Linked DNA regions of Homo sapiens: region 2 is linked to region 1. The links come from fine-mapping of genetic effects on gene expression. A gene starts in region 1. The other region holds a variant in brackets. All regions are shown on one strand. Distances are between the middles of the regions.

Region 1 (9,528 bases):
AAGTGCTGTGATTATGGGCATGAGCCACCGCACCTGGCCAATTTTTTTTTTAATAGGCAGGTCTTGCTATGTTGCCCAGGCTGATCTCAAACTCCTAGGCTCAAGTGATCCTCCTGCCTTGGCTTCCCAAAGTGCCAGGATTACAAGCAGGAGCCACCATGCCCGGCCTTTACCCTCAATTTTTTTTTTTTTGAGACTGAGTCTTGCTCTGTTGCCAGGCTGGAGTGCAGTGGCACGATCTCGGCTCACGGCAACCTCCGCCTCCTGGGTTCAAGCGATTCTCCTGTCTCAGCCTCCCAAGTAGCTGGGATTACAAGTAGGTGCCATAATACCTAGCTATTTTTTTTTTTTTTTTTGAGACAGAATCTCACCCTGTTGCCCAGACTGGAGTGCAGTGGCTCGATCTCGACTCACTGCAAGCTCCGCCTCCTGGGTTCACACCGTTCTCCTGCCTCAGCCTCCAGAGTAGCTGGGACTACAGACACCCGCCACCACGCCCGGCTAATTTTTTGTGTTTTGTTTTTTAGTAGAGATGGGGTTTCACCGTATTGGACAGGATGCTCTCCATCTCCTGACTTCATGATCCGCCCACCTCGGCCTCCCAAAGTGCTGGGATTACAGGTGTGAGCCACTGCGCCCTGCCATGCCTAGCTAATTTTTGTATTTTTAGTAGAGACGGGGTTTCACCGTGTTGGCCAGGATGGTCTCGATCTCCTGACCTCGTGATCTGCCTGCCTTGGCCTCCCAAAGTGCTGGGATTACAGGCGTGAGCCACCACACCCGGCCTTTACCCTCAATTTTTAACCCATCTCTCCATCTCTTTCCTCTTCTAAAACTATTTTTCTCAAATGCAAGGGTCTTATCTATAAATGTAATGATCTCTTGTCCTCTCCCCCTTGGTAAAATTCTCTTCTTGAGTTCCGATGAACTGTGTTATTAGTCCCCTCTTCCAAGAGGTATCTGATCATTCAGTAAACATTTTTGAGTTCCTGCTGTGAATATACAGATGATTAAGACATATTCCCTGTCCTCAAAGTGCTCATACATACGTAGTCTAGTACAGCCTGGAAAATGCCTTGGAAATGCAAGTATCCAGCATTTATAGGAGTGAATCATATGCCTATTTTACAAATAAGGAAACTGAGGCCTCGAGAGCTGTGACCTGCCTAAGGTCGCAGGCAGCATGGCAGAAGCGGGTTTCCTGAATTCCACTGAGGGGCTCTGGCTGCCGCCAGAAAGAAACATGGGGATTATGTTTGTTCTTACTCCTTGTTTGTTTGTTTTTTTTTTGAGACGGAGTCTCACTCTGTTGCCCAGGCTGGAGTGCAATGGCGCGATCTCGGCTCACTGCAACCTCTACCTCCTGGGTTCAAGCAATTCTCTTGCCTCAGCCTCCCTAGTAGCTGGGATTACAGGGGCGCCACCATGCCCAGCTATTTTTTTTTTGTATTTTTAGTGGAGACGGGGTTTCACCATGTTGGCCAGGCTGGTCTCAAACTCCTGACCTCAAATGATCCACCCACTTAGACCTCCCAAAGTGCTGGGATTACAGGTGTGAGCCCCCTCGCCTGGCACTACTATGTCTGTTCTTCTGCAGGTCAAGTTAGGCATGAGAGGGGAGATATCAAGGACCCCATGAAATTGTCAGGAATGGGAGGAGCTTCACCCCCAGGCCCAGTCTTTTGTTTGGCTGGCTGGGTAGAGAAAGGCAGAGGCCCTGGGCCCTGAGATACAGGAGGGGACGCTGGACCTCACCAGGAGAGCACTATATCCGTGAGCGTCTCGGCCGTGGTGAAGAAGGCAAAGACGATCCAGTACATCATCCATTTCACCTGAGGGACAGAGGGAAGCGCTGGCTGGGGCACGGGGCTGAGGGGCCAGGGACACCCAGGACCCCAGCTCTGCCTGTTGAACATGCCTGGGCTGGGGAGAACACCAAGGACCCCACTTCTGCCTGCCAGCCATGTTGGAGGCGCTGTGTGGGACACCCAGGGCCCTCCTTTGCTGGTGGGTCTTGTTAGTGGCTGACAGTGTTGGTGCAAAGTCACCCCCATCTGTAATAGGACCCAGTGCCCTCCCCTCTCTGTGCCATGTGGGTTGGGTAGGGGGTGAAGGGTCATCCACTCACATATTCCTTCACGTTTTTTGTCTTCACGGCCTTGTAGGAAGAATAGGCTGGGTACAGGGTGCCAAAGATGAGCCTAGGGAGGCAGGCATGGTTACTGGGCCTCTCAGCCAAGGGCAGTGGCCTCTCCCTCCCAGCTCCGCATCAGCCCCTGGGTAAGTAATGGGAAGAGAGACAGAACTCCCCGCTGGACTGATGAACTCAGGTCAGGGGTTAAGGTCAAAGCAGCATGGAACATGCCCAGCCAGGTAGGGTGATGCCCCCTCCCCGCTCCACTGTTCAGTTTTTCTCTAGCCCCGGAGGCAGGGAAAGGCCCAGAGGCCAGAGGGTCCAATGTAGTCCCTTGCGCCATGATCCTTGGTTACACACAAATATGTCATGGAGACTGGGAGTCAGGTCACTGCCACAGGGTGTCTTCCTTCTTGACCTCATGCCCATTCACACCCATCTGCCCTTACCCTCCACCTCCCTCAGAGCCAGGCTCTGCGAGGGAACCTGACACCACCTAACAGGGCACCCTACCTGGCAGGCAGAGGTACCACTGTGGCCCTGGGGCCCTAGGGAACAGAGGGCACAGGGGCAGGAGGCCCTGAGAGAGGCAAAGAGGCTTATTCCCCCATGTAAACACCACAGGGACAGGGCTCAGGGGAGGGCCCCGCTGGTGATCCAAGTACAGAATGCAGACAAGACACAGGCCGGGAAAGAAGAGGACCGATGCCCTTTGGGGCTTGCCCAGGCAAGAGAGAAGCAGCCACCCTGAAGGCCACATGGAGGCGTGAGGCCCCTCCATTCCCCCTGGGATGGGTGGGGGAAGAGAAGGAGTCTAGAGTAAACCAGGACAGAAGCACTTGGCCGGCCCGGCTGTACCGAATGGGAAGAAGGGAGCAGGGTGGGGCTGCCGGTGTCAGTCCCCAACGGTGGAGGCCGAGGGGCAGTGTCCTCATTAGGGCAGGGGATAGCTCCGAGAACCACGAGGAGCCCCTGTCAGGCTCAGCCCCTTGACAATGTGTGGCTGTCGCCTGTTTCCACATGGACAGGAGGGATACTTCCAAACCGGCTGGTGCAAGTGGAGTGCGGAGCAGAATCCTCAAGGACAAAGTCTGGGCTCGTGGGGAATGGTGTGTGTTCCCTCCTGGGGCCCGGGGAGGTGCCAGAGACACAGCTCCACAGTGTGGCTGGCAGCCTGGAATGAAGGCCACGGAGCGTCCTCCCCCAGCGGGGTCCACAATCCCAGGCTGAGCACACACATCCCCTCTCCCAGTTACCTCTCACACTTTGTCCTCCGAGCATTTCTGCTTCCCGATACCCAGACTTCCTCCCTAGGGGGCCTAAGGGCATATGCCCTCGTCCCCAGTCTCCTGACAGTGAGTGGAAGGGAGAGACCAAGGGGCCTGGTGATGGCTCTGAGCTGCGGAATGATGATGAGGCCCTGCCTTGCTCCACTCTCTTCCATCACCCTGTTACCTCCCCCAGAGGGACAGGGCCCGGGTCTGAGGATCTCCTCCAGCCCAGACCTGCTAGGTGGGGGAGGGGACGCGCCTGCCTCCCCTTTTAAATCAAGCCGTGCTGCTCAGCCTCTAGGATGGGCGCAGGAGCAAGGACGGTAGAAATAAAAGAGGTTATTAATAAAGAATGTGGGTGAGGTCCCTGGGAAGCCAGGCCTGCCACGCTCCCCTAATATTCCCCCCTCCAGTCCTGGGTGCCACATCTCCATGTCTCTGGGGGCCCCAAATAAGGACGCAGCGCCTTTAGGTGACTCTGCTGCACGAAGCTTCGGAGAAGTCCACCCGGGCTTTAACACCCCCGCCCTCCATCACAGCCCGCATCACCCCCCGCCGCCGCCGCACTCACACCACCAGGCGAGAGATGATCCAGGACACCATGGCGGGGCCGGGCGCGGCGCGGGGCGGGGACCCGGCCCGGCCGAGGATGCAGCTGCCTGAGGCCGAGCGGCGGCGGCGGCGGCAGCAGGAGCCGCAGTAGCAGCAGCAGCCGCTGCAGCAGCCGCCGCGGGGGCAGCGGAGCGCCCAGCGCCGCCGTTAAAGGGGAGGTCCCTGCCGCAGCGGCGGGCCGTGGGCGGTGGCGGCTCTTAAAGGGGAGGCCGGGAGGCCGCCGCGGCGGCGGCGGCGCGCCCCCGCCCCGGCACCTGCTGTGGCCGGGCATGCGCCTCCGACCCTCAGTGCCCTGCCTTCCTCGAATCGCTTGTTCATCTTTCTTGGGTTTCAAGCCCTAGGCTGTTGTCGTGGAGGTCTCCATGGTTACATCCTGAAATCGACCCCTGCCCACCTCCTGCCCTGCCCACACCAGGCGCTTACTGTGTGCCAGCCCCTGTGCTAAGAGCTTCACTGCGTTGCCAGTGAATCCTCTTGACCACCCTATAAGGCAGGCGCTATAAAAGCCCTCATTTTGAAGATAAGGGAATGAGAAGCTTAAGGCTCAATAATCTGTTGAGAGTCACAAAGCCACCAAGTCATGCTGCTAAGATGACCCCAGGAAGCCTACTTTAAACAGGTTACATCCCCCAACTGCTGACTAGCAAACTCTCCTCATTACAGGCCCTGAAGACATCCACCTGAGCTCCTGAGTCACAGGTACAGCCGCACCTGTCCACCCCACTCCTTCTCACCCCGTTGAAAGAGGATCTCCCCTGACCAGATGATGTTTTGTTTTTTTGAGACAGGTCCTCACTCTGTCGCTCAGGCTGGAGTGCAGTGGCACAATCTCAGCACACCTCCTGGGCTTGAATGATCCTCCCGCCTCAGCCTCCCGAGTAGCTGGGACTACAGGCCCAAAACACCACCAGCTAATTCCTGTTTTTTTGTTTTTTGTTTTTTTTTGCCAAGATGGGGTTTTGCAATATTGCCCAGGCTGATCTCCAACTCCTGAGCTCAAGCGATCCACCCGCCTCAGCCTCCCAAAGTGCTGGGATCACTGGTGTGAGCCACCGGGCTGCTGGTCTGCTTTTTTAGGTTGTCAGCTCCTAAGCTTTGCAGCGGAACAGAGCTTTATGCTCTCAATGTGGTTACTGACAACAAAGGGTCAACCTTCTTTTCAAACAGAGGGGCTGCGAGAGGGTCCTGGGGCTCCAGTTCCACCCCCATCAGCAAGCACTAGTGGCAGTGAATGTCCTGATTCTAAAGACATTTATATCCAGAATGTAGGCTAGCCTGCCTCCTGATCTTCAGGAAAGCAACCAACCTCCAACCATCCACCAACACCCCCAGCCCTATTGCTCTCCTTTCCTGTCCCATTTTAGAGCTTCTGCATTCCTCTACCCTTTATGTTGAGTTGTAATCCTTCGGGTGACCACAGCATCAACCTGTGCCCATCTGGGCTGAAAGGACACATTCAGAACTGTGTATTTCAAAGAGTCATGGTCTTATTCAAGCTCAGTATCCCTGAACAACACAATGGTCTATTTCTAACCTGGTAAATTATATTTCCAGGTTCAAACACTTTGGAAGATGTTTCCCAAAACGTTCCAGAAAAGCAGCCTCTGATAACCCCTCTTGCTATTCTTTACAACTTCCTCTCCAGAAAACATCTCCTAATTGGAATGCAGTCTGTTATCACCCCACAATGAAACACTTTAATTACTGCTTGATAAATCCCACATGAGTGTCTCCCACCATCTCTAAGGTGGATCTATGGCCACACGTTTCATGTAGGCAGCCAGGCTGCCTGCTTAAGAATCCCACCACAGACTGTCCAACTTTGCTGAGGCCACACACCATGACCCTTCCCCCCAGACTCTGCCACAGGAAGGGAGGACCCCAACTTTCCCACTCCATTCACAAAGCATAAAGTATGGGGAAACATGTCTCTCTTTCTACCCTCTAATTCATGTGGCCCCTTCCCCTTACCCCCAATTCCCCAAACCATACTGACCTCACCCTGGCACTTTCCTTTTTTCTAACATGGCACAGTCTCAACAAGCAAAGAAAAATATCTGGGTGTAGCACAGTCATGAAGACCTGGAAATGAATCCCCCACCTCCAACCCAACTCCCAATCTGATGTTGATTTTAGAAGGGTTGGTACACGAATAATTTAGTCCACTCCAAACAGATTTGTTAGATTTTTAATAAGAACATGGAAATCCCAATCAGCCCTTCAACAAAATTAAAATACAGAAAGTGAAATTAAAAGTATTCTACATTAAATGACTTTTATTTAAAAAAAAAAAAAAAAGTAACTGTGAACATATAAACAGCCTGCAGGGCACTACAGTACAGCTGGAGAGATATACATTTTCCAATGTACCTATGGGCCAATGAATCCCACCATTTTCAAATAAATCCTTAATCAGACTCCACTCAGTTGGAAAGTTTTGCTGAAAATATTTCTGGATAAAAAACAAAAAACCTCATGTTGGAAATCAACTGTCCTTCCCATTTGGAAACATTAAGAGGAGTCCCCAGGGAACACTGGTAATAGGTGAAAATGGTTCCTGGAGTCACCAGTGTTGTACACACACATGGGGAACACACCACAGCTTAGATGTGACAAAGTTCCTTCTCATATGACTGTTCCCTCAAGGTAAGACTAAGATGGGAGGGGGAGAAAAAGAATCCTAAAAAAGCCAATTTTTAAAAATTCTGCTTTGGCTGATTTTGTGCTATAATGGGTAGCTGATTTCTAAAAATCATATTTCTTCAAAGAGTTTTATATCGAAAGGAAGACTAAATGTAATGTGCCTTTCCTTATAATCCAGGAAAACAACTGTGGTATTTCAAAAATTCTAAAAATATCTACTTTCATGAAATAGTAACTATTTCACTACAAACCTATTTTTCACTAAATACACACATTTCCTAATCCTGGAGCCTCCTGGGAAAAGCAGTGGGTTCTCCCTGGGTCTTGCAAGACTCCAGTGTTCACAGGAGAGTGTGGGGAATAGCTTCACCCCGTCTCCTGGGATGGGCTTTGTCAGAGGTCACGTGCAGAGACGCTATCAGACTTCCACCAGGCATGTTTAAGCAATTACCCCATACTTGTACCAGTTATGTGATTTCCCCTATCTCCAAACACATTTCCACTTAACTAGGCACAAGAGGAAAAGAAAAGAAAGGTGTGCCCGTGAATCTCAAATCAGGAGAATGTGCAGGAAAGCCCCGCCATGTTCAGGCAATTTGGATTTCCAAAAGGCCACAGGATAGGGATGTGGCACTCTTGGCTTGGAGTCTCAAACTGTGTGTGTGAACAGTACGACTTTCCTGTGTCAACCTTCAGTGTTGAGGCAGCGTAGAAGAGAGTGGCTGGAGAGTTTGGAATACTGACCACACTGGCTCTGGGTGAAGGGCCTCTGCTCCAGCAAAGAGCCCTGCCGTTCCCTGTTAAGTGTTGTGAGTGAAAGACCTGCTTCACAGAGGAGCTTGGAGTTTCTCCATGCCTAGGACCTTGCCAGTTTGGATTCATGAGCCTTGAGGGTGCCAACCGCATCTTTCACTGCATGGTAAATGATGTTCTTCACCTAGAGAAGGTGTACAGCAAAGTCAGTTCACAGCAGCCCCATGCAAATGTACGTTCTACCTTGACTGTAAGCCTACTGGTTTAGTGGGGAAACTCCCAAAAAGGACTGTGCGTTCCTGTATCAATCCCCACAGTCATTTACAAATCACATAGGGCATGAGGTGTGTACTCAAAAAAGAATAATGAAGTTATGTGAAAGGCCATCTGATCACCATCATTTATGTGCTTACTATGTCCTGGGCAGGCGCTGCTGCTGAGCTCTTTATGTGGACCTTTGCTTAATCCTTGACAGAATCCTATGAGGTAGGTTCTATTATTATCATGCCCAATTTACAGAGGAGAAACTGCGGAAACTAAGGCCACAGTGAACACCTGGAGAACTTTGTTTCCTTATATGGTTAAGAGGCTTCCTTAAGGTTCTACAGCTAATAAGGATGCATTAAAACAAGAGGGGAAAGCAGGATTATGGCCTATTTTTTCCCTTCGTGCTTATATGTTTTCTGATTTGGATATATTACCTGTGAAATTGGAACACACAATAAAAGTTATTGAAAAAAGTGAACAGGCATATTAAGGTGAAGAGAATAAAGACAGCTTTCTTTTAAAGGGCTGACAAGAAAACTGAGGTTATTTCTGGGGAGGAAAAGCGGGGAAATGCAAAGGGGAAGGGTACATGGGGGCTTCAACCATGTAGTTGCTGTATATGTATGTGTGCTATAATTTCTTAAGCTGGGTCATGGGCATCCAAGTCCTTCTTTTACTATTCTCCATTAATTTTTTTGCATTGCTTCAACAAAGATTTATGAATACCTACTATGTGTCAGACATTGTGCTAAGGAAAAGCAGTGAGTAAAATGTAAAATTCCTGCCTTCACAGAGCTTAAATAGCTTACATTCTAGTAGGGTTAAGTAACAGATTAAAAAAATATATCTATATCTGTATCTATAGCTATATCTCAGATGGTGAAAATACTACAGGAAAAATAAAGTAGTGAAAGTGGGACTGGTAGTGCTGGAGCAGGAGTTGTTATTCTAAACAGGGTAGTCAGGAAAGGTCTTTTTTTTTTTTTTTTGAGATGGAGTCTAACACTGTTGCCCACGCTGGAGTGCAGTGGCGCCATCTCAGCTCACTGCAACCTCCGCCTCCTGGGTTCAAGCGATTCTCCAGCCTCAGCCTCCCAAGTAGCTGGGACTACAGGCGCCCACCACCATGCCTGGCTAATTTTTGTATTTTTAGTAGAGACGGGGTTTCGCCATATTGGCCAGGCTGGTCTCGAACTCCTGACCTTGTGATCTGCCCACCTCGGCCTCCCAAAGTGTTGGGATTACAGGCGTGAGCCACCGCGCCCAGCCTGTTGTTTTTAAATAAAGAGACAGAGTCTGTTGCCCAGGCTGGAGTGTAGTGGGGTGATCATAGGTCACGAGAGCTTCAAAACTCCTGGGCTCAAGTAATCCTCCCACCTCAGCCTCCTGAGTGGCTGGGACTGCAGAAACACACCCAACATCCCTAGCTCGGGAAAGGTGTTATGGATAAGGTGACATGTTACCTTTATATTCTCATTCTATGTAAACACCAATGTTGGACGGGCACGGTGACTCACGCCTGTAATCTCAGCATTTTGGGAAGCCGAGGCAGGTGGATCACCTGAGGTCGGGAGTTCAAGACCAGCCTGGCCAACATGGTGAAACCCTGTCTCTACTAAAAATACAAAAATTAGCTCGGTGTGATGACACGTGCCTGTAATCCCCAGATACTCGGGAGGCTGAGGCAGGAGAATCGCTTGAACCCAGGAGGCAGAGGCTGCAGTGAGGCAAGATCACGCCACTGCCCTCCAGCGTGGGCAACGGAGCGGGACTCCATCTCAATAAACAAACACCAACGTTGATTATACTTTGTATAAAAACTATGGTTGGCTGGGTGCAGTGGCTCAC
Region 2 (9,528 bases), 460 kb after region 1:
TGAGACTCCATCTCAAAAAAAAGAAAAAAAAAAACAACTTATTTTAAATTATTTTCCTAGAAATCATGATGTCAGCAGAGGTAGCTAGGTGGTATTATGGTTGACTTTTGTTATTTTTAAGACAGCTTCCGTATTTCTTAGGAGTTTTGCTGAAGAACATGGTATAGGGGAGAACATATAATATTCTCATACACTTCTTAGGATGGGATAGATCCCTGTAACAGAATATTGGTTAACAAGAGAAAAACAAGTTTTAAGACATGTATACCTCATATATACATGGGAGATACTCGGGGGAAGTGAGTAAATCTCTCAGAGGTGGCTTAAATACCATCATGTCCTGAAACAAAGGAAAAAAGGGTGTTGGGGAGACCTAGTTGTAATGAGATGACCAGGAAAAGCACTGTAAGCAAAGTTAAGGTTAGCTCTCAAGATTGGTAGTTTTTAGTGATTTAGAGTCATCTTTCTCTTGCTCGTACAGAGAGGAGACACCCGTAGAAATGGAGATTTCTACTACAGATGAAAATTTCTTTTATAAAAGGGTAACTTCTCTGTATTATCCTGTGTTTGCTATTTCTGAAAATAATAAGCTGAAAATAATCCTTATGCCAAAGAGGAATAATTTGGTGTGGCATGTTCTGAACCTCCACTGTTGGCATCCTTTCTTGATTAGCAGAAACCTAGGAACATTGTTGTAATAATGACTAAATTATTGTCACTGTCACATTTGTTAGTAACTTTTTTTAATATAATTGCCATTAAATGTAAAAAGCAGCATCTAAGACATTCAAAATGTAATTTTGATACTACTTTTAAAAATAAGATGCTAAATTAATAGATAAGGTGGGTTTCCTCAGTATATTTTCATTCTAAACCATCCACTAAAGTAGGGCTAAAGAGGAATTTAGAGTAGGAAGACTTAGGTTTTGTATTCTGCCTTTGTTCAGTATCAGTGTGACTTTGGCCAAGTTACCTGACTTCTGAACTGCATTTTGCTTTTCTCTAAATAAGTGGGGGTAATACCTATATTAGAGGATTATGATAAAAAGATGTGAACATATTATAAAATTATTTTATAAACTAGAAGACATTTCAAAGAAGTTAAGCTGCCACTGTTAGTTTCACAGACTTGGGTGTATTAGATGAACAGCTTTTCAGTTATTGCTTCTATAGTTGTCCTCTTGCCCTTTCCTGGATTATCAGTTTCTGCCTGTCTACCTAGTCATTCCCATCAGTGTAAAACATTTATACTGTTATTTCTTCCAAGTTCAGAAAAAACCCTCTCTCGACTCCCCCCATCCCATTCTAGCACATACACCCTGATTTCTCTGCTTCCCTTTATAAATAGAATTGCTGGAAGAATTGTCTGTGTCTCTTTTCTTTAACTCTTCTCCTCCCATTCTCTCTTAAATTCACTGCAGTGATCCTTTCCTCCGACCATTCATTCCTCTGAAATAGCTTTTGCAAGTCACCAGTGATGTCTGTTGAATGTTTTACTTGACCTAACAGCAAGGTTTGATTCAATTAATTACTCCCACTACCTTGATATACTTTTTTCACTTGGCATTCAGGATATCTCACTCGGTTTTTTTTTTTTTTTTTTTTTTTTTTTTTTTTTTTTTTTACCTACACTGGCTGTTCTTTCTCATTCCCCTCTGCTGATTGCTCTTCCTCTTCTGAATCTCTTAAATTTGGAATGGCCCAGGGCCCATTTCTCAGATTGCTTATTTTTATTCACTTCCTTGGTAATCTTGTTTAGTCTAATGGCTCTACCTACCATCTATGTGCTACTGATTCCCAAATTTGTATCTCGAGTCCAGACCTGTTTTGGAACTTTAGATTGCTATATCCAACTAGGCACCCAGCATTTCCACTGGTATATTTTTACCAAGCATCTGTTGAGTAGGAAAGATTTCTTTCCTTACCCATCATTAGGTTCATAGCTGAGGCATCTGTAACAGAAGACATTAACAAGAGAAAAGCATGCACATTTATTTAATGTAAGTTTTACATGACATGAACACCTTCAGAAATCAAGACCCACAGAAACAGACACACCTGTGTATTTTAATGCTTTGGTTTGATGAAAAGTGGACAGTGGTGCGGATGAATAATTAGACAAAGAGGATGATAAATAAAGGGCGGCTCATTAACCAAGGCCTGTTTGTTCAGATTCTTTTCTATGTCCCTGTGTATTCAGAGATAAGGGCATTCCTTTCATCCAGGTATAGGGTAGATACTTCTGGAATGAAGGTTGTTGTTGTTGTTGTTGTTGTTTTTGAGATGGAGTTTCGCTCTTCTTGCCCAGGCTGGAGCAGTGGCACAATCTCAGCTCACCACAACCTCTGCCTCCCGAGTAGCTGAGATTACAGGTGCCTGCCACCATGCCCGGCTAATTTTTTGTATTTTTAGTTGAGACAGAGTTTCACTATGTTGGCCAGACTGGTCTCGAGCTCCTGACCTCAGGTGATCTGCCTGCCGTGGCCTCCCAAAGTGCTGGGATTATAGGCCTGAGCCACCACGCCCAGCCAAAGGTTTTATGACTTACTTCAGAAGATAAGTCTGACCACTTTTTACTGTTTCTACTGCCATCCTCTCACCTGGATTAATATTGCCTCCTAATTAATCTCCTCATCTTTGTTTCTTGATGGTATGTTCTCAACACTGAGCCAGAATGATCCTTTTAAGAGGAAAATTAGATAATGCCACTTCTCTTCCTAAAACCTTCCAGTGCCTTCTAGCTATCAAAATATAGCTATAGGCACTACGGAATATTGGCTGTGATAGTCAGGATTGAGACAGCTAAATCATAAGTCCTATCTGGATTGCTTATTTGTGGATATCTCCTTAGCTTACATTCTTACCTAGTCTTGCAGATACTTCCTCAGTTTTACCAAATCTCCTCATCACTGTCTGTTTATGGCAGGCCCTCCCACTTACCCACCCACTCCAGTCTCTGAACTTTTTGTCCTTTTTCCCTGCTTCGCATTCCGCCGCACTTTTTTTTTTTTTCCTGAGATGGAGTCTGTCTCTGTTGCCCAGGCTGGAGTGCAGTGGCACAGTCTCGGCACAGTACAGCCTCTGCCCCCCAGGTTCAAGCCATTCTCCTGCCTCAGCCTCCCAGGTAGCTGGGATTACAGGCATGTGCCACCACGCCCGGCTAATTTTTGTATTTTTAGTAGAGACGGGGTTTCACAGTGTTGGCCAGGCTGGTCTCAAACTCCTGACCTCAAGTGATCTGTGTGCCTCAGCTTCCCAAAGTGCTGGGATTACAGGCGTGAGCCACTGCACCTGGCCCCCTCCCCACTTTAGATAGTGTTATAATTATTTTATATATCTTTTAATTTTTATTTTTAGAGACAAGGTCTCACTCTTTCCCAGGCTGGAGTGCAGTGGTATGATCATACTCACTGTAACCTCAAACTCCTGGCCTCAAGCGATTTTCCTACCTCAGTCTCCTAAAGTGTTGGGATTACAAGCATCAGGCACCATGCCCAGCCATTTCTTTTATATTACTAGTCTGTTTATTGTCTGTCTCCCACTATTAGATTAAAACTTCATGGGGCTACTCACAGTGGCTCATGCCTGTAATCCTAGCACTTTGGGAGGTCATGGTGAGAGCGTCATTTGAGCCTGGGAGTTTGAAACCTGCCTGTGCAATGTAAGGAGGAGAACCCATCTGTACAAAAATGGTAAAAAAAAAAAAAAAAAAAAAAAAAAAAATAGCCAGGTGTAGTGGTGCTCCCCTGTGGTCCCAGCTACTTGGGAGGCTGAGGTGGGAAGATCACCTGAGCCCAGGAGGTAAGGCTGCAGTGCGTGGTGATCACACCACTGCAGTTCAGCCTGGGCGACACGGTGAGACCCTGTCTTTGAAGAAAAAAAAAAAACTTTATGAGGGCTGAAATTTTTGTCTGTTTTGTTCTTTATTACATCCCTATTATCTAGAACACTTAGTAGGTATTCATTAAGCATTTGTTGATGTAAGACCAGAATAGCATCTGGCACATAGTAAGCTAGTAAACAACTCGGTAAATAATTTGTTGAATGAAATTGGTGTATTAGGCTGGGCGCAGTGGCTTACGCCTGTAATCCTAGCACTTTGGGAGGCTGAGGCAGGTGGATCGCTTGAGCCCAGGAGTTCAAGGCCAGCCTGGGCAACATGGTGAAACCCCGTCTCTACAAAAATAAAAATTAGCCAGGCTAGGTGGCGTACGCCTGTAGTCCCAGCTACTTGGGAGGCTTAGGTGGGAGGATTGCTTGAGCCTGGGAGGTGGAGGTTGCAGTGAGCTGAGATCGTGCCACTGCACTGCAGCCTGGGTGACAGAGTGAGACCCTGTCTCAAAAAAAAAAAAAAAAAAAAGAAATTAGTGTATCAATTACTTTATAAAGAGAGCAGGAACTAATTCTTTCTAAAATTGTTTTTAGGAAACCTTTATGAATGATGGGTTCTTGGCCTTGAAAAACCTGTCACCATTTCTTCCCCCCAACCCCAGCTAAGAAGTTCAGTGATACTCTTATTATTTGAATAAGTTAGTTCAGTTGGGCAATACACAATAATACCTGTTTACTTGGACAGTATAAGCAAAAATACCTGATTTAAGTTTTCTTTCTTTTTTTTTTTTTTCTTGAGAC[G/A]GAGTTTCATTCTTGTCGCCCCGGCTAGAGTGCAGTCGTGTGATGTGGGCTCAGTGCAACCTCCGTCTCCTAGGTTCAAGTGATTCTCCTGCCTCAGCCTCTTGTGTACCTGGGATTACAGGCATGTGCCACCACGCCCGGCTAATTTTTTTTTTTTTTTTTTTTTTTTAGTAGAGACAGGATTTCTCCTTATTGATCAGGCTAGTCTCAAACTCCTGACCTCAGGTGATCCTCGCGCCTTGGCCTCCCAAAGTGCTGGGATTATAGGCGTGAGCCACCGTGCCTGGTCGATTTAAGTTTTCAATGACTTGATAATCTAGGTTGTACATGCACATACTTTCTAATACAGAATATGACTAGTGCTATTAGGGCACTATAGTCTTGCAGAAGAGAGGAAAGAACTTCTGGCCAGGGTAGTTATGGAAGGTCTTGGAATGAGGGGGATTTTGAACTTGGCTTTTTATAGGGCTGGATTTGGTTCAAGATTTGTGAAAGAAACTAAAATGAATAGTATAAGTAAAGATTACAGGGTAATGTTGAATGTTAATGAAACAGAGCTACTTGTAGAACTCAGGGTATTGTGGGAGGATATATAGTAGAAGATAATTCTGGAATATTGGTAGATTTGGGTCATACGTAGAGCCTGGAATACTATCTTAAGAATTGTAGATTTTCTCAGTAGAAGAAAAATATAGAAAACTTTGAAGCAGAGGGAATGATGTACCCAGATCTGTATTTTAGGAAGAAGGTTTTTTGTAGTAGTCATAAAAAGTTTGTGGGAAAGACTGGGGGTAAGGACAACAACAATCAGTAGGCTTTTTGCACTGTATTTGGCGAGCACTTAAAATATCTGAGCTGGTGGGCATGGTGGCTCATGCCTGTAATCCTTGCACTTTGGGAGGCCAAGGTGGGCAGATCACCTGAGGTCAGGAGTTCGAGACCAGCCTGGCCAACATGGTGAAAACGCATCTCTACTAAAAATACAAAAATTAGCGGGGCATGATGGCACATGCTTGTAATCCCAGCTACTCGGGAGGCTGAGGCTGGAGAATCTCTTGAACCCAGGAGGAGGAGGTTGCAGTGAGCTGAGATTATGCCACTGCACTCCAGCCTGGGTGAAAGAGTAAGACCCTGTCTCAAAAAAAAAAAAAAAAAGTCTGAACTGTGAGCCCTAGGGAAGGAAGGAAAAATAGAGAAAATTCCAAAGGTGAAAATGATTAAGATTTAGGTGCAAACTGGGGTAAGAAACACAGACACTAAGAGATTGGAAAAGAGGTCAGTGTTGCAGAACTGGAATATCAAGGTGGTTTATATGAAGCAGATGTTCAGGTCTTGAGCTGTGGCTGGTGGTGGAGGCTCATTTTGTCTGTGAGTGAATGCCATTGCCAAAGCAGTGACTTGAATAGAATAAACGGGGATTGAAGAAACCCTTGGGGAACCTCTGTATTCTAGCTCTTTGGAGGAAAAAAAGCAGCCATGACCATAGCAGTTGGGAATGTCAAAGAGGATGGGATTTTTTCCTGAGTCTGAAAGTTGGTCAAAATAGAGAGGTAAAAGGAGGAAAAAAGGTGGTGGGAGGCAAAGGTACAAAAATAAGAAGAGTAAGTTTAATTTTATTTGCTTGCTAGGGTGGTTAAAAGTCTAATGAAATGGCTTTTTTTTTTTCTTTGCCTTTGCTGTTGAACAAAAAATTTAAGAATACCCAGGAACAATATATTTAATGCTGGTGAGGGTAGGTTAAGGTAAGTGGTCTTATACAGACATCGGAAGTATAAATTGCTGTAAACTTCCTGGAAAACACATTAACAGTAAGAACAAAAGACCTTAAACCTTTGATCCAGAAATTTCAAAATCTAGGACTCTTTCCTAAGGAAATACATACAAATCAGAGGTGTATGCAAAGATTTTTCTACTAGAATTCTTACTGGGGGTTTCTTCATCGGAAAAAAAAATGGGAAACACAAAAAGTCCTAAATGGAAAATGATTAGATAAATCATAGTATATCCATATCATAGGATATAGTTGAGTCATTTAAAATTATTTTAAAGGCCCAAGTAATAGTTGTGAGGTAAAGTTATTTTGAAAAAAAAACAAAAAACAAAAAACAAAACATACAAAACCAAGTGTAGATTACTAAAGCTAATGCAGTCCCAATTTCTTTGTGTGCATGCACTGCATGTGTGTGTGGCACATAGTCAAAAGGCCAAGTCAGAATATTCACAGTGGCCTTCTGTCTGATAGATTGTGGATGATTTTACTTTTCTTCATATGTCCTTATATTTATGTTTCCAACAGTTTCTCTGATTTATAATCAAATAATTAAAGAAAATTTATTGGATTTAGTGATAGAAATTATTGGTAAAGAAAGAGGAGCTTTGGTAGGTAGAGGATTTCATGGTTGAGAATGAATATCAGGTGAGTAGGTAGAAGCTGCAGTGTGTGGAATGCCTTTTGCACAAGTTTTGCATTGAAATTAAAAGGAAAGAGAAGGCCAGGCATGGTGGTTCATGCCTGTAATCCCAGCTGTAATCCCAGCACTTTGAGATATCAGGGAACCTGCTCCCGATAGTCATGTAGGTTCTTTTCTATTTTCCCTAAGCATTGGCTGGGTTGAGAAATAAAGGGACAGAGTACAAAAGAGAGAAATTTTAAAGCTGGGCATCCGGGGGAGACATCACATGTTCGTAGGTTCTGTGATGCCCCCCAAGCTGTAAAACCAGCAAGTTTTTATTAGGGATTTTCAAAAGGAGAGGGAGTGTATGAATAGGGTGTGGGTCACAGAGATCACATGCTTCACAAGGTAATAGAATATCACAAGGCAAATGGAGGCAGGGCGAGATCACAGGACCACAGGACTGGGGTGAAATTAAAATTGCTGATGAAGTTTCAGGCACACGTTGTCATTGATAACATCTTATCAGGAGACAGGGTTTGAGAGCAACCGGTCTGACCAAAATTTATTAGGCGGGAATTTCCTCGTCCTAATAAGCCTGGGAGCGCTATGGGAGACTGGGGCTTATTTCATCCCTACAGTCTTGACCATAGAAGATGGCCACACCCAAGGAGGCCATTTCAGAGACCTACCCTCAGGGGTGCATTCTCTTTCTCAGGGGTATTCCTTGCTGAGAAAAAGAATTCAGCGATATTTCTCCCATTTGCTTTTGAAAGAAGAGAAATATGGCACTGTTCCACCTGGCTCACCGGCAGTCAGAGTTTAAGGTTATCTCTCTTGTTCCCTGAACATTGCTGTTATCCTGTTCTTTTTTCAAGGTGCCCAGATTTCATATTGTTCAAACACACTTGCTCTACAATTTGTGCAGTTAATACAATCATCACAGGGTCCTGAGGCGAAATACATCCTCCTCAGTTTACAAAAATGATGGGATTAAGAGATTAAAGTAAAGACAGGCATAGGAAATCACAAGGGTATTGATTGGGGAGGTGATAAGCGTCCATGAAATCTTCACAATTTATGTTCAAAGATAGCAGTAAAGACAGGCATAAGAAATTATAAAAGTATTAATTTGGGGAACTAATAAATGTCCATGAAATCTTCACAATCCACGTTCTTCTGCCATGGCTTCAGCTGGTCCCTCCATTCGGGGTCCCTGACTTCCTGCAACAACAGTGGCCTTCTGGCTGATAGGTTATGGATGATTTTACTTTTCTTCATATGTTCTTATATTTAGGTTTCCAACAGTTTCTCTGATTTATAATCAAATAATTTAAGCAAAAAATTCCAATTAAAGAAAATTTATTGCATTTAGTGATAGAAATTATTGGTAAAGAAAGAGGAGCTTTGGTAGGTAGAGGATTTCATGGTTGAGAATGAATATCAGGTGAGTAGGTAGAAGCTGCAGTGTGTGGAATGCCTTTTGCACAAGTTTTGCATTGAAATTAAAAGGAAAGAGAAGGCCAGGCATGGTGGTTCACGCCTGTAATCCCAGCACTTTGGGAGGCCGAGGTGGGTGGATCACGAAGTCAGGAGATGGAGACCATCCTGGCTAACATGGTGAAACCCCATCTCTACAAAAATACGAAAAATTAGCCAGGCGTGGTGGCAGGCGCCTGTAGTCCCAGCTACTTGGGAGGCTGAGGCAGAATGGCATGAACCCGGGAGGCGGAGATCGCGCCACTGCACTCCAGCCTGGGCAACAGAGCAAGACTGTCTCAAAAAAAAAAAAAAAGGAAGAGTTGAGCAGTCTGGTTGTGGAAGAGATATTCCCCCCTTCCCCACTCCCGTCCCCCATTTCTGCTTTCTTGATACAGGATGGAGATTTGAGCATGTCAGTAGGAATCACTCACTAGATAGGGAGAGACTAAAAAATGTCAGAAAGAAAAAAAAAAACCCAGGGTAGTTAGGGGAACACTGCATAGAGGGGGTTGGGAGTGAGAGATGGAAGAAAGGTGATTCAGTGTGCAAGTTGAGTGACTATTCCTAAATAGGAGAGGCTACTTTTAATCTTCAGTAAAAGGGGATATATAGAATATTTTTTTAAGCGAGAGGTGTTTTGGGGACTTAATTCAGATGGCTTTGACCATTTTAAAATGAAATGCATTTGCAGAGGGTGAGGAGACAGGAATTGGGTTTGGATCTGAAGAAATAGGTAGTTTTGCAGGAGTCTCTGTGGGGAGAAATCAGACAGAACTGAGTCACCAGATGTTTGAGAACCAATGGAGGTCTAACTGAAGTTTGATGACATGAATTTGTAGTGAGCCAACTAGGAAGGTACGTTAAGTGACACATTTTATTGTAGCATCTGTCTGTCTGGAGGACAGAAAGCTGGTCATAAACTAGACCACATTGGTTAGGGCATTGACTAAATAGCTTTGAAATAGTTAGCCAGGGTACAGAGTGCGTGTTGGGTGGATTAGAAATTTAGAATGAAGTTTTC

Alleles and levels. Positions count from the first base shown, and alleles are read on the strand shown. Sizes are in standard deviations (SD) of each study's normalised expression.
For the expression in aorta of the gene that starts at base 4,160 in region 1, allele G in region 2 goes with a lower level than allele A (large effect, 0.87 SD a copy in GTEx).

What was found. PIP is the estimated chance that this variant, and not a neighbour inherited with it, causes the effect.
Region 2: its variant is the best candidate, but not a certain one, in a credible set for the expression of REEP2 in aorta (GTEx, PIP 0.74).

What each region holds. Positions count from the first base shown.
Region 1 is chr5:138,433,689-138,443,216 of GRCh38, reverse strand. REEP2 (receptor accessory protein 2) reads right to left here and starts at 4,160. Exons shown (of 8, transcript NM_001271803.2): 1 at 3,977-4,160; 2 at 2,129-2,201; 3 at 1,756-1,832. The coding sequence starts at 4,008. It overlaps KDM3B (lysine demethylase 3B), which reads right to left. Exons shown (of 24, transcript NM_016604.4): 24 at 6,190-7,597. The coding sequence ends at 7,517. RefSeq lists an enhancer at 2,994-3,527 and a silencer at 3,913-4,332.
Region 2 is chr5:137,975,273-137,984,800 of GRCh38, reverse strand. All of the region lies in intron 10 of FAM13B (family with sequence similarity 13 member B), which reads left to right. Among named protein-coding and RNA genes, the nearest start is that of FAM13B-AS1, 53 kb to the left of the region's middle. The variant G/A (reference allele first, on the strand shown) is at 4,633.